Homo sapiens: one gene and its partners. The protein of the gene in region 4 purifies or fractionates together with the protein of the main gene of each other region. This does not show direct contact. Each region holds a gene or a part of one and is shown on either strand. Other genes may lie near its edges.

The links.
Region 1: the proteins of DCTN5 (region 4) and SMC4 fractionate together in Homo sapiens (co-fractionation; one large-scale study listed by BioGRID). This does not show direct contact.
Region 2: the proteins of DCTN5 (region 4) and ACBD3 fractionate together in Homo sapiens (co-fractionation; one large-scale study listed by BioGRID). This does not show direct contact.
Region 3: the proteins of DCTN5 (region 4) and SLC4A1AP fractionate together in Homo sapiens (co-fractionation; one large-scale study listed by BioGRID). This does not show direct contact.

What each region holds. Positions count from the first base shown.
Region 1 is NC_000003.12:160,406,150-160,409,649, forward strand, and holds part of SMC4 (structural maintenance of chromosomes protein 4), read left to right. Parts: intron 1-3,500. UniProt on the Homo sapiens protein: Central component of the condensin complex, a complex required for conversion of interphase chromatin into mitotic-like condense chromosomes.
Region 2 is NC_000001.11:226,151,552-226,156,312, reverse strand, and holds part of ACBD3 (Golgi resident protein GCP60), read left to right. Parts: intron 1-1,335; exon of another isoform or gene 1,336-1,479; coding exon 1,480-1,666; exon of another isoform or gene 1,667-1,710; intron 1,711-3,693; coding exon 3,694-3,978; intron 3,979-4,761. UniProt on the Homo sapiens protein: Involved in the maintenance of Golgi structure by interacting with giantin, affecting protein transport between the endoplasmic reticulum and Golgi. Involved in hormone-induced steroid biosynthesis in testicular Leydig cells.
Region 3 is NC_000002.12:27,690,795-27,695,555, reverse strand, and holds the end of SLC4A1AP (kanadaptin), read right to left. Parts: intron 1,872-4,761; coding exon 1,802-1,871; intron 923-1,801; coding exon 873-922; 3' UTR 587-872; downstream 1-586.
Region 4 is NC_000016.10:23,657,842-23,662,602, forward strand, and holds part of DCTN5 (dynactin subunit 5), read left to right. Parts: intron 1-665; coding exon 666-784; intron 785-3,328; coding exon 3,329-3,440; intron 3,441-4,761. UniProt on the Homo sapiens protein: Part of the dynactin complex that activates the molecular motor dynein for ultra-processive transport along microtubules.

The DNA of each region.
Region 1 (3,500 bases), on a different chromosome or scaffold from region 4:
TAAAGCCAATTTGTTCACATGATAATCTGAACCTTTTTATGTGATCTTTACAATTGTTTAAAAAACATTTCTTCCCAAATAATACAAAGGTGAATGTTCCAAGTTAACAGATTCAGTTTGACTCAATTAAATTTATAGATAAGGACCTTAGGAACTCACTTGTTAGGAATAAGAAACAGGGATTGGACTACGGTAGAACTAATAGTGCCCAATTAAAACTTTGAGGGAAAGTGACAATGGTTTCTATGGATTGTTTTTTTTAAGTCGCTTATGAAAATCTCAGACTCCTAACTGGCAATTTAAAGCATTTGATGGTAAGTAAAAATGTGATTTTTATTACCTTCTCTCCTACTGAATAACATCTATCTTAAAAACTGATTTGGGAGGCTGAGAAATTGGAAACAGCATCGTAGTATCAACATCCAAGACCTAAATCATTACTTGGAATAAAACATGTAGACTATTTGGCCAGTAATAGTGATTAACAGCAAAAGTAATCTAAATTTAGTAAAAATAAACATTTATTTTTGAGATTAAAAAGAACCAAATTTTTTAGAAGTTCCTAAGAGTAAAATTTTTCAGTGTTAATATATTCGCTTAGCAAATTTTTCAAGTAGGCATTTTTATTACTTAAATCCATTAAAAATTTCATTAATTGGCCATTCAATTGAATTCCTATTAAGGCACTATGCTAAAATGCTGTAAGTAATATTAAGATGGCTAAACCTTATTTCTTGTCCTTAAAGACACATACATGCCTTCAAAAAGTTTGTTGTGATTGACCATTGTGTTTTTTATAATCGTACATTTTCTTTTATATATACCTACTTTGGGAGCCTCGGTCCCGTTGTAAGTCTGTACAAGTAGAGTTTTATTAGCTCTGTATAACATTTCTTGGGTAACTATGACTTATAAATTAGGGGTGCTTTTGCTCCATTCAGGGGTAGAAGAATGGTTAATGTTTTTACTAAAAAGTTGTATTAATGATTGCTGCCTCAGGAATATTTTTGTAAACTCCTCAAAAGCTACAACTATTAGCACAACTTTAATTTTGTCAAAGTTTTCAACTTCATATGCTTTTGTCTTCATATTACAAAATCTAAAGTTTGAAACACGAACCAGGCTGGGTGCATTAGCTCACGCCTATAATCCCAGCACTTTGGAAGGCTGAGGCAGGCAGATCACTTGAGCCCAGGAGTTGGAGACCAGCCTAGGCAACATGGTGAAACTATGTCTCTATAGAAAATACAAAAATTAGCTGGGCATGGTGACACACCCCTATAGTCCCACCTACTCAGGAGGCTGAGGTGGGAGGACTGCTTAAACCCAGGAGGCAGAGGTTGCAGTGAGCCAACATCGTACCACTGCACTCCAGCCTGGGTGACAGACCTTGTCTCTAAATAAATAAATAATAGCCAAGTTCTTTTTTTTTTTTTTAATTATTTTGTAATTTGGAGATTTAATTAACCTAGGTCTGAGTTGTTGCCTAGCCATCTGTTCTTTTTTCCAATGTACTTCTCTTAAGCTTGTCACATAAACTACTTGGGTTCTAGTCTCTTAGTCTGTAGAAATGAGCCTATGCTATAATATCAAAAGAAATTTTTAGTTTTTTCAGTAATGCCTCAGTTTTCCAAAGGTGTCTGATTCAATATCCACAACTAGGGTGAAGGTGGTGGAGAGCAGCAAGGAAGCTACCTCTAACCAACCAGAAATAGATATCAAGAAGTCCAGCTACTAACAAGTTACTCTTTCTGTTTTATTTTAGAAAGATACTAACCTTGGTGGTTTAGTTCCTTGGCCTCTGGTAGCTTACAAAGATCAAATTAGAGTAAAATGTATTGGAGGAAGATAAAGAACACTAATTTATAGTATAGTATAATAAAAGATATAGAAAATAAAAAGATGATCAAGATAAAAACTTAAACCTCAGTAATTTTAGGCCATTTAATTTTTATGCAAACACTCATATTTGCTGTAAGAATCACTGAAACCCTCCTTCATAGTAATTACAAGTAAAAATAAAGAGAAGAATAATTGAGGCCTTACTAGGACAACAAAACTTTGTTATAGCTATGTACTGTTTGAGTTTTCTGTAGTTGATGCTTGCTAAAATTTGGATTACATTTGAATAAGGATAAAGGGCATCATACCTATTCATTCCTCTTAGATTTCTAAGCTGTATTTCAGTAAATTGATTCTCAAAGAGTGGTATAACTGGATCATAATATCCTTGTTTGCCACTCAAGAAAGTGTTCCATAACTTAAGATAACAGTGGTGGGAAAAATCATTTAAGACCTTGTTTCATATGCTTTAAGATACAAGAAATAGAGATAACACTGGGAACATATGAAACTTTGTCAGCATCAGATAATAGTGTTGTAGCGACTTGAAACATTTTTTGTCTGTGATTGTGCCAGTCACTATTTGTGACTTGGATTGAACCTTGATATGACTTTAAATTCAGGTTGATGTTTTAAAATTATTTCTGAAATATATTGAGCTTATTGCCCTAAATTAAAACTATATTCTGTAATTTTACATGAGTTATGTAAGTTTTCTGAAGAAATAAGGAGGAATCCTTTAGGCACAGACTGTCAATCTACAGATTACATAGGAGATGGCACAAATGGAAAAAGAAGGAAGAAAGGAAATGGTAGCAAGTGGTAGGGCAGGCAAAGGACATCAAAGAACAGAGCAACAAGAAAAGTCCCAGGTTGTCATTGTAATACCACAGTAGTCTTAATAGTCAAAGGACAAGTAAAGGCCTGTTAATAGCCTGTTGATTCAATAATGCTAATCTGATAATATGGTAACTGGTTTAAAAAAAAGCAATACGGTATAATAATCTTAAGACTGCTGTAATCCCAGCACTTTGGGAGGCCCAGACGGGCGGATCACGAGGTCAGGAGATCGAGACCATCCTGGCTAACACGGTGAAACCCCGTCTCTACTAAAAAATACAAAAATTAGCCGGGCATGGTGGCGCGTGCCTGTAGTCCCAGCTACACAGGAGGCTGAGGCAGGAGAATGGCGTGAACCCGGGAGGCGGAGCTTGCAGTGAGTCGAGATCGCGCCACTGCACTCCAGCCTGGGCGACAGAGCGAAACTCCGTCTCAAAAAAAAAAAAAAAAAAAAAAAAAAAGACTGAATGTTATACAGGAGTTGAGATGTAACTATTTTGCTTTGTAAATATCCTGCCTTTAAAAAAAAAAATGCTCAACTCTATTAGAGGAAATCATAGCTGTATCTTTCATTTTATTTGGAGAGAGAGGAACAAACAACCAAAAATGAGCAACCATTGTTATTTACCCAAAGCTAAGCTGTTTCTTAATAGCTGTACTCTATCTCTTCAGTAAGTAATTTGCCAGGAGAAATACAATGTTTTTAAGGAATATTTTTGTCAGCGTAAACTGTTAAACACTGAATCCCAACTTTTAGCTATCTGAAAAATGTATACTTAAATAATACATTATGGCCATTTGACTCAAATGTAAGTTCT
Region 2 (4,761 bases), on a different chromosome or scaffold from region 4:
AATGTTGAGTGAAGGTAGCCAGACATAAAAAAGAATGTATACTATACAACCCATTTCTTTAAAGTTTTAAAATAGGCAAAGCAAATCTATAGTGTTATAAGTCAAATAGTTGTTACCCTTCAGGGCAGGTGCCCAGAAAGGGGTACCAGGGAATATTCTGGATGCAGATACTGTCTTGATCTGAGTATTAGTTACATGGATGTGTTTGATTTATGAAAATTGATCAAGCTGTGTAATTTATCATTTGTACACTTTCTACATGTATGTTGTAATTCAATTTATAGTTCCCCACCAAAGTTACCTAAGTAATACTCAGATATTTGAAGTAGTATCTGTCCATATTGATTTAGAAGAGGAATGTCCCAAAATAGTCCTTTGGATTTAAGATGTTTTTACTGCCATTTTGACTCAGAGGACATTTTGATTTTATATTTATGAATACACATTTCAATCATAACTATATAAACAGTGACAAATTTTCATTGAGAAAATATTTTTAACCTCAAATTGCATCCTGTAAGTCTGTTTGATTCTTAGGTCAGCATTTTACAACACGATTAACAATTTTCAATTTCATTGTGATCATAATTTTTCCCTGAAGTTTTAATTTATTGACTTTTTGGGGTCAATTATGTTAGAATAAATTGTCCATATTTGATTTTTTTATTGCTTTGGGGGCCCATACCAGATTTTGCCAATTATAGCTTCTGCCTTTGTGAATTTTCTTCTGTGACTATTCCCACCAAGTTTAATTTTTCTAATTCAAATTTTGTGTATTTAAAGTTTATCAAGATTTTTTTCTTCCATCAATTTCAAGAGCACATTACTGTGTTCAATTTTTGCCTTTAATAGTTTTATTTTGGGTTGATTATTTCTACTTTTTTTTTTTTTTTTTGAGATGGAGTTTCGCTTTTGTTGCTCAGGCTGGAATGCAATGGCACGATCTCAGGTCACTGCAACCTCCGCCTCCCGAGTTCAAGCGATTCTCCTGCCTCAGCCTCCCAAGTAGCTGGGATTACAGGCGTGTGCTGCCATGCCCAGCTAATTTTGTATTTTTAGTAGAGACGGGGTTTCACCATGTTGGTCAGGCTGGTCTTGAGCTCCTGACCTCAAATGATCCACCCACCTCCGCCTCTCAAAGTGCTGGGATTACAGGTGTGAGCCACTTTGGCTGGCCTTACTTTCATTTTTCCTGGTTAGTTTTTATGGTGATTCTCAGATCACAGAAATGTGAGCCTTAGTTGCAGGTTTTTGTCCACATTAATTTTTATTGATTTTTTATTATTTTTAGCTGTCAGTTTGATATTGTACTAATAATATTCATTATAGACAGGATAAAAACTGATAAAAATTTATTAGTAATTTCTTGAGCATAGCACTTTGGTAGGGCAAAAGCATGGTATCAGATGTACTCCAGGGCAGATGTCTTATTTGCTAGCCTTCCTGGTCAGTGTGTCTTCACTTTCTCTTGGTTTGTAGGCAGCATTACAGAAACAACAGGAAGTAGTAGTGGCTGGGTCTTCCTTGCCTACATCATCAAAAGTGAATGCAACTGTACCAAGTAATATGATGTCAGTTAATGGACAGGCCAAAACACACACTGACAGCTCCGAAAAAGAACTGGAACCAGAAGCTGCAGAAGAAGCCCTGGAGAATGGACCAAAAGGTAGGTTTTGCATATGTGTTTGTCCAGATGTCATAATTCCAAATCTGTGAAAGGCAAAAGTCATGAAGTCAGGTTATAATTAGCTTTTGAGAACAATTACATATTTGTGAGAGTTGAACATTTTTTTACTCTTTTTAGTCTGAATCTAATGCTCTGGTGACTCATAGACCAGTGTAGAAGAGCAAATCAGATGTCTTTGGACACTTTTAAGACAAAAGTTATGTTTTGTCATATATATATATATAAATTATCTATTGCTGCATAACAAATTACAGGCTGGGCGCAGTGGCTCATACCTGTAATCCCAGCACTCTGGGAGGCTGAGGCAGGAAGATCACTTGAGCCCAAGAGTTTGAGGCTGCAGTGAACTATGATTCCGCCTGCCTGGGTGACAAAGCAAGACTGTCTCTCAAAAAAAAAACAAACAAAAATTAATTACACCTAAATTTAGTAGCTTGAAATAACAATAAACATTTATTACTATCTTGTACAGCTTCAGTGGGTCAGGGTTTCAGGAGCAGTTTAGCTGAATGGCTCTGACTTAGGCTCCCTCATGAGATTGCAGTCAAGATGTTGATGCCAGGACTAGAAGATCTGCTTCCAAAATGGTTCCCTCACATGGCTGGCTTTTGGCTGGAAGCTCAATTCCTGGCCCCATGAAGCCTCTCCATAGGGCTTCTTGAGGGTCCTCAAAACAGTTACTGGCTTCCCCTAGCAGAAGTGGCAGTGTCTTTTATGCCTTGACTTTGGAACTCCCACCATATTCTGTTGGTCACACATACCAATCCTTATATATTGTGGGTGGTGACCTCACAAGTGCATGAAGACCCAGAGGTGAGAATCTCTGGGGACCATCTTGGAGGCTGGCTACCATAGAAATAGATATATTTTTGAGACTAATGTATCATGTTGCCTAGAAAATAACTGCATTTTCAAAGCTCTACTAGCTTTCCATGGGCAGCTCATTTGTTCATTCAGCAATTAGTTGAAGGTTTCCTGAGTGCTAGGAGTACAGTGGTGAGGCAAAATAACACACAGAAAATGTAGATTGTAGCTGTGATAAGTACGGTGATGGAGAGAGAGGTACATTATCTTTGAGAGAATGTAAAACAGGGAAGTGTGACCTAGTCAGAGAGGCCACCAGAGGCTTCCCAGAGGAAGGGACAATTGACCTGAGATATCTGAAGCAAGAGGAGTTAACTAAGTAAGGAGGAAGAGGAGAGCATTTCAGTGACAGTGGTCAGGGATGGTGGTATGGTTCATAAGAAATTTGGTTTCAGAGATCTTCCTTGTCTGTTTAGAACAAGTAATAATTGCTTCAGAAAAGGCTTTGAAATCCCTTGGTTTACTGCCCCCTTCCCTTTTTTTTTCTTATCAAGGGATTATACTAGCATCTTCAAATGAGAGAAAATATTTCAAAGGCTCTGTGACTAACTTTGAAAAACTTATTGCATAGTCAAGTGCACATAGGTACTGCTCAGTAACAAGACTTTACCCCTTTTTCTCAGTCCCTAGTGGTTCTAATCCTGTCCGAGTTTTTGTTTCTTTGAGCTCCTTTAGAATAGCCCCTAGAACTTTGGGATAGTTGGAGGTGAAGAATTTTTCAACAGACAGGCTGAAGTCAAAGTCCAGCTTTCTTTGTTCACATCCACAAGAGTAATTTATTCCTAAAGCCAGAATCTCTCTTCCTTGCTAGAATATTTCCCTCACTCCAGCTGGGGCCTTCCCAAGGTCATTCTTGAATCCCCATAGAGGGAGTGTTGAAAAAAATTCGTTTCTAAAATTGTGGGCTGCCATTGTTACTTGAAGAAGTACGATGACCTCTGAGTGCCTGCAACATTGTTAAACATAGTAATCTGGAGAGACTCCCATGGGGAGGCTTTTTTATTCCTCCAAGTCCTTGATCTAAGCTAGACCATATTGTACTTGGTGCCTGAGTACAACTGATCAGGTAGTGCTATGAAAATGTGGCTACCTGCAGGGTGAAGGCTCTTTTTCTTTAGCTTTTTAATACCTATTGCCTTTAGAATCTCTTCCAGTAATAGCAGCTCCATCCATGTGGACACGACCTCAGATCAAAGACTTCAAAGAGAAGATTCAGCAGGATGCAGATTCCGTGATTACAGTGGGCCGAGGAGAAGTGGTCACTGTTCGAGTACCCACCCATGAAGAAGGATCATATCTCTTTTGGGAATTTGCCACAGACAATTATGACATTGGGTTTGGGGTGTATTTTGAATGGACAGACTCTCCAAACACTGCTGTCAGCGTGCATGTCAGTGAGTCCAGCGATGACGACGAGGAGGAAGAAGGTAGAACCCTTGGTCCATATTCAGTAGCTGCTGGGTTGTGTGTTGGCAGAAATGGTACATAGTTCAGGTGTCACCCAGCCTTATGCTTCCTGACTAACACTTCATGGTTAGGGAACACTTTCTTCATTAGTGGGACCTTGGGCTGAAAATGTTATGAGGCCAGGCTCCTGTAGGGGACTGGGGCCTAAACCTGAATTTTTCTGAATGCCAGGAAAATCTATTTGGCAATTTGCTATTTTACTCCTTTCTGAATACTATTTTACTTCTAACCGTGTGTGTTGAAAAGCCAAATATGCAAGATTACTTCAAAAAAAATTTTTTTTTTTTTGAGACAGAGTCTCACTCTGTCACCCAGGCTGGAGTGCAGTGGCATGATCTCTGCTCACAGTAGTCTCGGCCTCTTAGGTTCAAGCGATTCTCCTGCCTCAGCCTCCTGAGTAGCTGGGATTACAGGCACGCACCACTGTGCCCGGCTAATTTTTTGTATTTTTAGTAGAGACGAGGTTTCACCATGTTGGTCAGGCTGGTCTCGAACTCCTGACCTTGTGATCCACCCGCCTCGGCCTCCCAAAGTGCTGGGATTACAGGCGTGAGCCACAGCACCCGACCCACTTTGAAAAATTTTAAAGGAGCAAGTAAGAATTCCTGTCAACCCTGGCATTTATTTAAATTTATATTGTTGATATTAGCATTTTAGGTCATTATTCTAAAATTTTTTATGTAAATACAGAAACTCACCAGAATAGTCCACTTAAAAAAATTTCAATTATTTTTCCATTTGGA
Region 3 (4,761 bases), on a different chromosome or scaffold from region 4:
AGGAGGCTGAGGAGAGCGGGATTGCTTGAGCCCAGGAGTTTGAGACCAGCCTGGGCAACATGGTGAGACCCCATCTCTATAAATATAAAAATTAGCCAGGCACAGTGGCATGTACCTGTAGTACCAGCTACTCAGGAGGCTGAGGCAGGAGAATCACTTGAGCCTGGGAAGTTGAGACTGCAGTAAGCTGTGATCATGCCACTGCAGTAAGCTGTGATCATGCCACTGCACTCACTCTGGGCAACAGAGTGAGACCCTGTCTCAGAAAAAAAGAAAAAAAAATGAGGTTCCAGTGCTTTGGGAGGCTGAGGCAGGAGGATCACTTGAGGCCAGGAGTTCAAGACAAGCCTGGGCAACATGGCAAGACTTCATCTCTCCAAAAAATTTAAATAAAATAATTAGCCAGGTGTGGTGGTGGTACATGCCTATAGTCCCAGGTACTTGGGAGGCTGAGGTGGGAGGATTGCTTGAGCCCAGGAGTTCAAGGCTACAGTGAGCTAGGATTGCACCACTGTACCCCAGCCTAGGTGACAGAGTAAGACCCTGTCTCTTAAAAAAAATAAAATAAAATAAAATATTAGGAACATTTTTGCCTTCTTATTTTAATAGGATCATGTCTCTCACTTTACAAATTCTCAAAACATATGGTTCCCTTTTTACATACATATATAAACACTTTTAAACATAAATATCAAATGCATGAGAATCATATGGGCAGATAAATTTAGGAAGCCAAGAACACAGAACGAAAAGCCAGTCACCAGATCTTACAAATAATCATCTAAACTTCTCTGGCCATTCAATTTGATACATTATCCCAAATATTCCATGTCACATGGTCCACAAGGTTTTCTTTTGGGATTCTGAAGCAATCAATAGCCATACTTGTCATTAAGATGGGTTCTGCCATCTCCACTTTGACCTAGATCAGAATATAAAAAAAGAAATACATTATTTACTCTTCCAAAGTCAGGAGAGAAAAGATATCCAGATATCAGTAGGCCAAAAAGTAAAATAGACAAAAAGGTTTATTCTACGGTAGAAATTTTACTTTTTGTATGAAATTTCAAAATACAGCCCTCTTTCATTTCTACCCTAACATTTGTTAGCATAGAAAAAGCAGACATCTCAAGTAACTAAATTATATTAGTTACTAATATATTAGAAATCTCAAGCTGTGATGAACATATGAGGAAGTAAGTATCTCATACATTGCTTTAAGGGTGTGTGTATGAGCATAAAACTGGTACAATCTCTATAGAATGCAATTTATAATATCTTTAAAATGTTTATACCTTTGATCCAGCAGGTTAACTTTTATGATTTTTTTTCTATAGATGCTCCTCTCTACTTAGCATTTTATATATAAGTATCCATAAGAAACTAACAACAATTGGTTGTCTTGTGAGGAAAACAACCGAGTAGCTGAGGCACAGCCAGAATTGTTTTCCTTTCTTTTGACTTGGTAAAACCCAGATAACATTACACCTGTAAACACTTCCGTATATATTCCTAGAAGACAAGGACTTTTTCCAAAAAACATAACTCAACATCATTCACACTTTAAAAAAATAAAAAATAATTTCTTAGTATCATCAAATATCCAGGTAGTGTTCAAAATTATCTGACTGGCTAATAATTTTTTTAAACAGTTGTTTGTTTGAATAAGGATCCAAACATGGTATACAAATTATCACTACATACTCTTGTAACTTTCTTATGTTGAACCTTAAATCTATATTACCTATTCAAAAATATAAATAAATGAACCTTAGAGGAAAAAAAAGTAAAAACAATCTACCTTCAGGTGGGACCCACACACAGTAGTCTGGGTCATCTTCAGGATATTTGGAAGAAAGTGTTGGTGGAAGCTAAAAAGAAAAGATGGATTGTTTTATTCACAAGAATTTCTCTCCAGAAACCTTACAACTGCAGAAGGGATTGGGGTCCTATTGTTAGCCTCCTTAAGCAGAATAAACATTAGTCAAGAATTTTGTATCCAACAAAACTAAGTTTCATGAATGAAAGAGAAATAAAGTCTTTTTCAGACAAGCACATGCTGAGGGAATTTGTCACTACCAGACCAGACCTACAAGAAATGCAAAAAGGAGTTCTAAATCTTAAAACAAAAGGTTGGCATGCACCAGAATAGAACCTCTTGAAAGCATAAAACTCACAGGGCCTATAAAACAATAATGTAATGAAGGAAGAAAAGTATCTAGGTAACAATCAACATGATGACTGTAACAGTACCTCACATCTCAATATTAACATTCAATGTAAATGGTCTAAATACTCCACTCAAAAAAAAAAAAAAAATCACAGGCTGGGCGCAGTGGCTCACACCTGTAATCCCAGCACTTGGGGAGGCTGAGGTGGGTGGATCACCTGAGGTCAGGAATTCAAGACCAGTCTGGCTAACGTTGCAAAATCTCTACTAAAAATACAAAAATTAGCCAAGTGTGGTGGTGTGTGCCTGTAGTCCCAGCTACTCGGGAGGCTGAGGCAGGAGAATCACTTGAACCCGGGAGGCAGAGGTTACAGTGAGCTGAGATCACACCACTGCACTCCAGCCTGAGCTACAGAGCGAGATTCCGTCTCAATAAATAAATAAATAAATAAATAAATCGCAAACCAAATATCTGCCATCTTCAAGAGACTCACTTAACATGTGAGGCTTCTTATAGACTAAAGGTAAAGGAGTGGAAAAAGATATTCCATACAAATGGAAGCCAAATGCAAGCAGCAGTAGCTTTTCTTATATCAAATAAAATAGAATTTAAAGCAACAACACTGAAAAAAAGACAAAGAAGGCTATTATATAATTATAAAAGGATCAACCCAACAAGAAGATATTACAATCCTAAATATATATGCACCTAAAACTGGAGCTCCCAGATTCATAAAACAACTACTACCAGACCTAACAAAAGAGAAAGACAGCAACACAATGATAGTGGAAGACTTCACACTCCACTGACAACAGCAAACAGATCATCAAGGCAGAAAGTCAACAAACACTGGACCTATACTATACTCCAGAACAAATCAACTAACATATTTACAGAACATCTACTCCAGAACTGCAGAATATACAATCTTCTCATCAGTGCCTGAAATATTCTCCAAGATAGACCATATGATAGACCACAAAACAAATCTCAAATTTAAAAAAATTGAAATCATATCAAGTATCTTCTCAGACCACAGTCGAATAAAACTAGAAACCAACTTGAAAAGGAACCTTCAAAACTATACAAATACATGGAAATTAAACAATCTGCTTCTAAATGATTTTTGGGTTAACAATGAAATCACTGGAAATTTAAAAATTCTTCAAAATAAATAATAGTGACACAAGTTATCAAAACCTCTGGGATACAGCAAAAGCAGTGCTAAGAGGAAAAATTTATAGTGTTAAATGCCTACATCAAGAAGTCTTGAGCCAGGCATGGTGACTCACGCCTATAACCCCAGCACTTTGAAAGGCCAAGGCAGGAGGATTGCTTGAGCTCAGGAGTTCAAGACCAGCCTGGATAACATAGCAAGACCTCATCTCTATTTAAAAAAGAGAGAGAGAGAGAGAGAGAAAAGTCTGAAAGATCACAAATTGACAACCTAATGTCACACCTCAAGGAACTAGAGGAACAAGAACAGACCAAATGAGGCTGGGCGCGGTGGCTCATACCTATAATCCCAGCACTTTGAGAGGCTGGGGTGGGCAGATCGCTTGAGTCCAGGAGTTCAAGACGAGCCTGGTCAACATGGTGAAATCCTGCTTCTAACAAAAGTACAAAAATTAGCTGGGCGTGGTGACACACGCCTGTAATCCCAGCTATTCAGGAGAGCTGAGGCAGGAAAATTGCTTGAACCCGGGAGGCAGAGGTTGCAGTGAGCTGAGATCGCACCACTGCACTCCCTGGGCAACAGAATGAGACTCTGTCTCAAAAAAAAAAAAAAAAAGAACAGATTAAACCCAAAGCTAGCATAAAAGAAATAACAAAGATCAGAGCAGAACTAAATGAAATTGAAACAAAAGAAACTGCAAAAGATCAATGAAAAAAAAGGTGGTTTTTGAAAAGATAAACTAAATTCATAGATCATTAGCTAGATTAGACAAGAAAAGAAGATTCTATATTAGTTCAATTAGAAAGGAAAATGGAGACATTACAAGCAACACCACAGAAATACAAAAGATCCTTTGAGACTACTATGAACACCTCTATGCACACAAACTAGAACATCTAGTAGAAATGGATAAATTCCTGGAAACACACAACCCTCCTAGACTGAATCAGGAAGAAACAGAAATCCTGACCAAACCAATAAAAAGCAGTGAGATTGAGTCAGTAATTAAAAAATATTACCACCAACAAAAAAAAGCCCAGGACCAGAAGGATTCACAGTCAGATTCTACCAGACATTCAAGGAAGAATTGGTACCAATCTTACTGAAAGTATTCCAAAAGAATGAGAAAGAAGGAATCCTCCCTAACTCATTCTATGAAGCTAATATCGCCCTGATACAAAAACTAGGAAAGGACATAACAAAAAAAAAGAAAACTAGAGCCCAATATCCCTGGTGAACACAGACGCAAAAATCCTCAATGAAAGACTAGTAAACTGAATCCAACAGCATATCAGAAAAATAATACACCCTATTCAATACACCATGATCAAGTGGGTTTCATCCCAGGGATGCTGGGATGGTTTAACATATGCAAGTCAATAAATATGATACATCACAGCAACAGAATTAAAA
Region 4 (4,761 bases):
TACTTGCATGTCCCTTGCTTACTTTTTCCAGTTACAACTCCAGCATATGCACTTTTTAACCCCATTCATTTATTCAGCAGACATTTTGAGGGTGCCTACTCTTTACCAAGTATAAGGCATTAATCCTCCCAGACTTATAGGGGAACAACTTCTGGGGAAGCCACGCCTTACACTTTGCAGTGTAGCACTTAGAATCTGAGTTCAGAGGTTGGGAGATGAACCAGAACTCCAGTGGGTCCACCTCTTGGAGCATGGAGTTGGAGGAGGTGTAGTGTTAAGAAAGAAGACAAAGGTAAAGCAGCCAGAACTCTTGGTAAGCGAGCAGCCAAGGCTTGGGGGGCATGAGGACTTACCTGAGCAAATCTAAAGAGACATATAAGCCAGATCTGCTATAGGTGTTCTCACTAAGTGCTCATTCAGTGAGTTCTATTCATGGGGGATTAAGGGCAAAGCTTGTGATGTACTAGGAACATCACTAACTGCAGTCACTGTCATGAGGGCAGTTCTCTTTTTACCTTACAATTTATTCCTTTTGGCGGAACATTTGAAACATTCTGTCAGAGTGGATTGTAACATAACTCAGAATCAGTATCTCGTTATCTACTCTTTTTTTGTTACGTCTTAGGCTATGTTGCTAATTTTTTAAAATTTGCTTCGTCTTACAGACCATTGTGATGAATGACTGTATTATCCGAGGGGATCTGGCAAATGTAAGAGTTGGACGTCATTGTGTTGTGAAAAGTCGTAGTGTCATAAGGCCACCATTCAAGAAGTTCAGCAAAGGGTATGTAATTTAATTACTTTGTTCAAGTCTTGGGCAAGAAGCTGCCACTGGTGGTGTGGTCCATGTGTTGAGTTGTGGTATAATGACTAGGTCTGTCCTGTTTGAAGCACTGAGTAAGAGTTCACCATAATGAACACAACTCTGCTGGTGGTTGTCTCAGTCTGGTTGATGATTGGTTGCTACAAACAGAATCCGCTTACACACTGGCAAAAGCAAAGGATTTCTGATCAAACAGACTGGCGTATATAATGGAACCTAAGAGGAGGAAAAGGAGCAAGCCAGGCCTCACAAGGGACCGGAACCTGGAATTGGACAGCTAGCCGGAATCAAGACTGTTTTGTCTACCTATCCCTCTCTGTATCTGAGACTGTATTTTTTCTTCTATACTGCCCTTCTCTCTGCATTTCTACTTGCCTTTTCTCTCTCACAGATACCTGCCCCATTTGTTCATGGAGCCTACCTTGCTGACTCAGCCTCTAATTTATATCATTTCTCCATTTAGGCTTCCAGCAGACACCAACTAGAGATCTTATGTGTTACTTCCAAACTCTTGAGAGAGAGAATCTGATTGACTCATCTTAAGTATCCCTGATCTGAACGACTTTGACCCAAAGGGCAGAGTCAAGTCAGGTCCACTGATCCTTCAGTGGGAATAAAGACTGTCCAAGAAAGGCCAGGGACAGAGCAGGCAAACTGACCACCATAGCTGATAATGGTGCTAAAGTATTCTCTTTGCCTCTTTGCTTCTCTCCTCCTTGACTAATTGCCCTCCTGGCACCCATCTGCATTTCATCCAATAAGTCAGCAAGCATTTATTGAGCACCTTCCTCATGCCTGCAGCTGGGTTGTAAGCTGAGAATATATAAAGATAGATAAAATAAAATTCCTGCCTCAAGGTTCCCAAAGTCTAGTTGTAGAAGCAATTAGCATAATCAGATAGCGACATATGACAGCTACTATATGATGTGATACACCTGTCACAGAGGTATGACCATGGTTAGGAAGGAACAGAGAAGGGAGCAATTAACTCAAACTAATGATAATACCCAGAAGTATATCATGCAGAAATAATCCCACATTTCCAATAATGATGTTGGATTCCAGGCTTTCCATGACATACAAGAACTGGATCGGAGAATCATTATAAAACATTCACATGATTAGCTTTGAAGGCTACTAGGGGAAAACCAGAAAACCTCCTGGTACCCTATTATGGTTTTATACAGTGTGACTGATACACTACTAGAAATGTTGATTAACAGCATTGTTGGGTTGGATATGGCACAGGAAAAGCACCAAGAGTGAACAAGGGGTTTATTGCTGAATGAAGGGATGTGTAAATAGGAATAGTACATGTGAGAAATGCTGAAAATATGAAAGTGTAAATAGCAAAACATGAATAGAAGCTAAATGTGGATTTTTTTCTACCTGCATGTCATACCAGAACCAGATAATACTATCGAACTTGGAATCTTAAATTTAAAATTAAAGAACTGTCAGTACTGCTACAGACTGTGATGAGATCAGGGAATGCATTGCTGCACAAGAGGTACAGACCAAAAATACTAGTGGTTAAGGAAGATTTAAACAAATTATAGGTTCGTAGAGGACAGGTATCATCTCTGAAAAAATATTCTGGACAGAATAGAACAGAATTGGAATTCTTCTATACTGCCCTTCTCTCTGCATTTCTACTTCCCTTTTCTCTAGTGAGCATCTAGCACTTTATATTCATTCCAGTCCAAATATTTTACATCCCAAGGTATAGAAATTACATATAAATGTGATCACAGAACCACTGTCAGTGACATTTGAGGAACCCTAGAGAACGGGATGGGAATGATGTCAGATATCTGGAGAAAGCCTGCTGACTCCTACTCAAAGTCAATTAAGTTTTTCCTAAATCCATGGACTAGGTAAGGTCTCCTTGTTATATATGCTCATAACTTGATATTGTGTTTCTGTAGCCCTTATCACAGTTGTCACTACTTACTATTTAATCTCATTTCTTCTCTTGATTGCAAGCTGCTCGTGGACAGTGTTCTCTCTCTTTTGTCATTATTATAGCCCTAATTTCTAGCATTGAGTCTGGCACATAGTAGTCACTCACTGAAGTCTGTGAATGAATAAATTTTTAGAATGCTGAATGTGGAAATTATAACTCATGAGCCTACTGTCAATCCCCTGGAACATTATAGGGCAGGTTACTAAAAATGTGATCTGTGAGCATTTTCAAAGGAAGTGGGAATGAACAAACGTTCATTGATTTTTATTTGGTACCTGCTCTTTTAGCTTTGAAGATCTTGCCCCTCCTGCCTTGGTTTTTCCTTTCATATTTCTTTGGTGTACTATTGCAATTTTGAACTAGTAATCATATTCATTTTCTTCAATATTGTATAATTTTTCTAGCCTGAGGTTTCTTTCCTTGCTGGGAACAGTCTTGCTAAGATGATAAAGTTCAAATTATGATCTGTAGTTCTATAAACCTTGACCCAAAGTACATCATCTTGACCTTTCTGTGTTCATCTTCTTTTCCTCTTCTAGTGTTGCATTCTTTCCTTTACATATTGGAGACCATGTCTTTATTGAGGAAGATTGTGTGGTCAACGCAGCACAGATTGGTTCCTATGTTCATGTTGGGAAGAACTGTGTGATTGTGAGTATGATGACTTGGCTGGCAAAGCAGCTTCACTTTCCCTTCAGCTCCCATCCCTCACTTCGGTGGGACCCTGTTTCTGTGACTAAGCAGGGTAGCAGTGGTTTCCAGTCTTCCCAGAGTTGGATTTTTCTTGACAGATATGGAATTTTTTCAGCTGGGTGCGGTGGCTCATGCCTGTAATCCCAGCTTTTTGGGAGGTTGAAGTGGGCAGATCACTTGAGGTCAGGAGTTTGAGACCAGTCTGGCCAACATGGCAAAACCCTGTCTCTACAAAAATACAAAAATTAGCTGGGCATGGTGGCGCATGCCTGTAGTCCCAGCTACTCGGGAGGCTGAGGCAGGAAAATCACTTGAACCCAGGAGGCGGAGGTTGCAATGAGCCAAGATTGCACCACTGCTTTCCAGTCTGGGCAACAAAACGAGACACTGTCTTATAAATAAATAAATAAATAAATAAATAAATAAATAAAAAGATTTGGAATATTTTCTAGACATTAATACGGGCAAGCGTTTATCAAGTCTCCTCTATATGATGTTAAACTCTTTCCTTTGATGATTTCATTTAATCCTTACAACCATTCAGATGTGTTAGGTGTTATCCCTATTTGCAGATGAGAAGACTGAGGACCTTAAATATTAAGGGATTTGGGGCCAGGTGTGGTGACTGTAGCCTATAATCCCAGCACTTTGCGAGGCCAAGGCAGGAGGATCCCTTGAGCCCAGGAGTTCAAGACCAGCCTGGGCAACAAAGCAAGACCCTTTCTCTTAAAAAAAAAAAAAACCCAAAAGTTAAGGGATTTGATAGGGCTAGAAAGCAGTAGACCTGGGATTTAAACCCAGGCAATATGATTATTAGCCATGCTGCTATATGGCCTACTTATTGCCTTACTTCACGGAGCTTACAGTCTAATGGGAGTAAGGAAATCTGAAGGGTGAGTTGAAACTGGGGGAAGACAGGCATTTCAGGAAAGAGATTCACATGCGTAAGGAAGGGTTCAAGTCATCAAAGGGCATTTACATGTAATTCAGGGTGCAAGCGGGCCCCTTGCTCAGCAGAATCTGTAGGACCCTGGTCCATTGGAGCCTAGGAATAGGTTGATTTAACCCAACCAAGGCTTAACAAGGTTGGATTTCCTGTGATTTCTTAGATGATGAGCTTGATTTCAGTTGGGATTTATGAGAACCATGTTTAGGGAAAGTGTTTTCTGCATTTTAGATTTGTACTCCAGACTAGATTCTAGGAAAAGCCAAGACTCTGTTTCTTTAATGACCATTCCCGTTAATATGGAGCCAGCTCTCTGCCCTGGATAAGACTCAG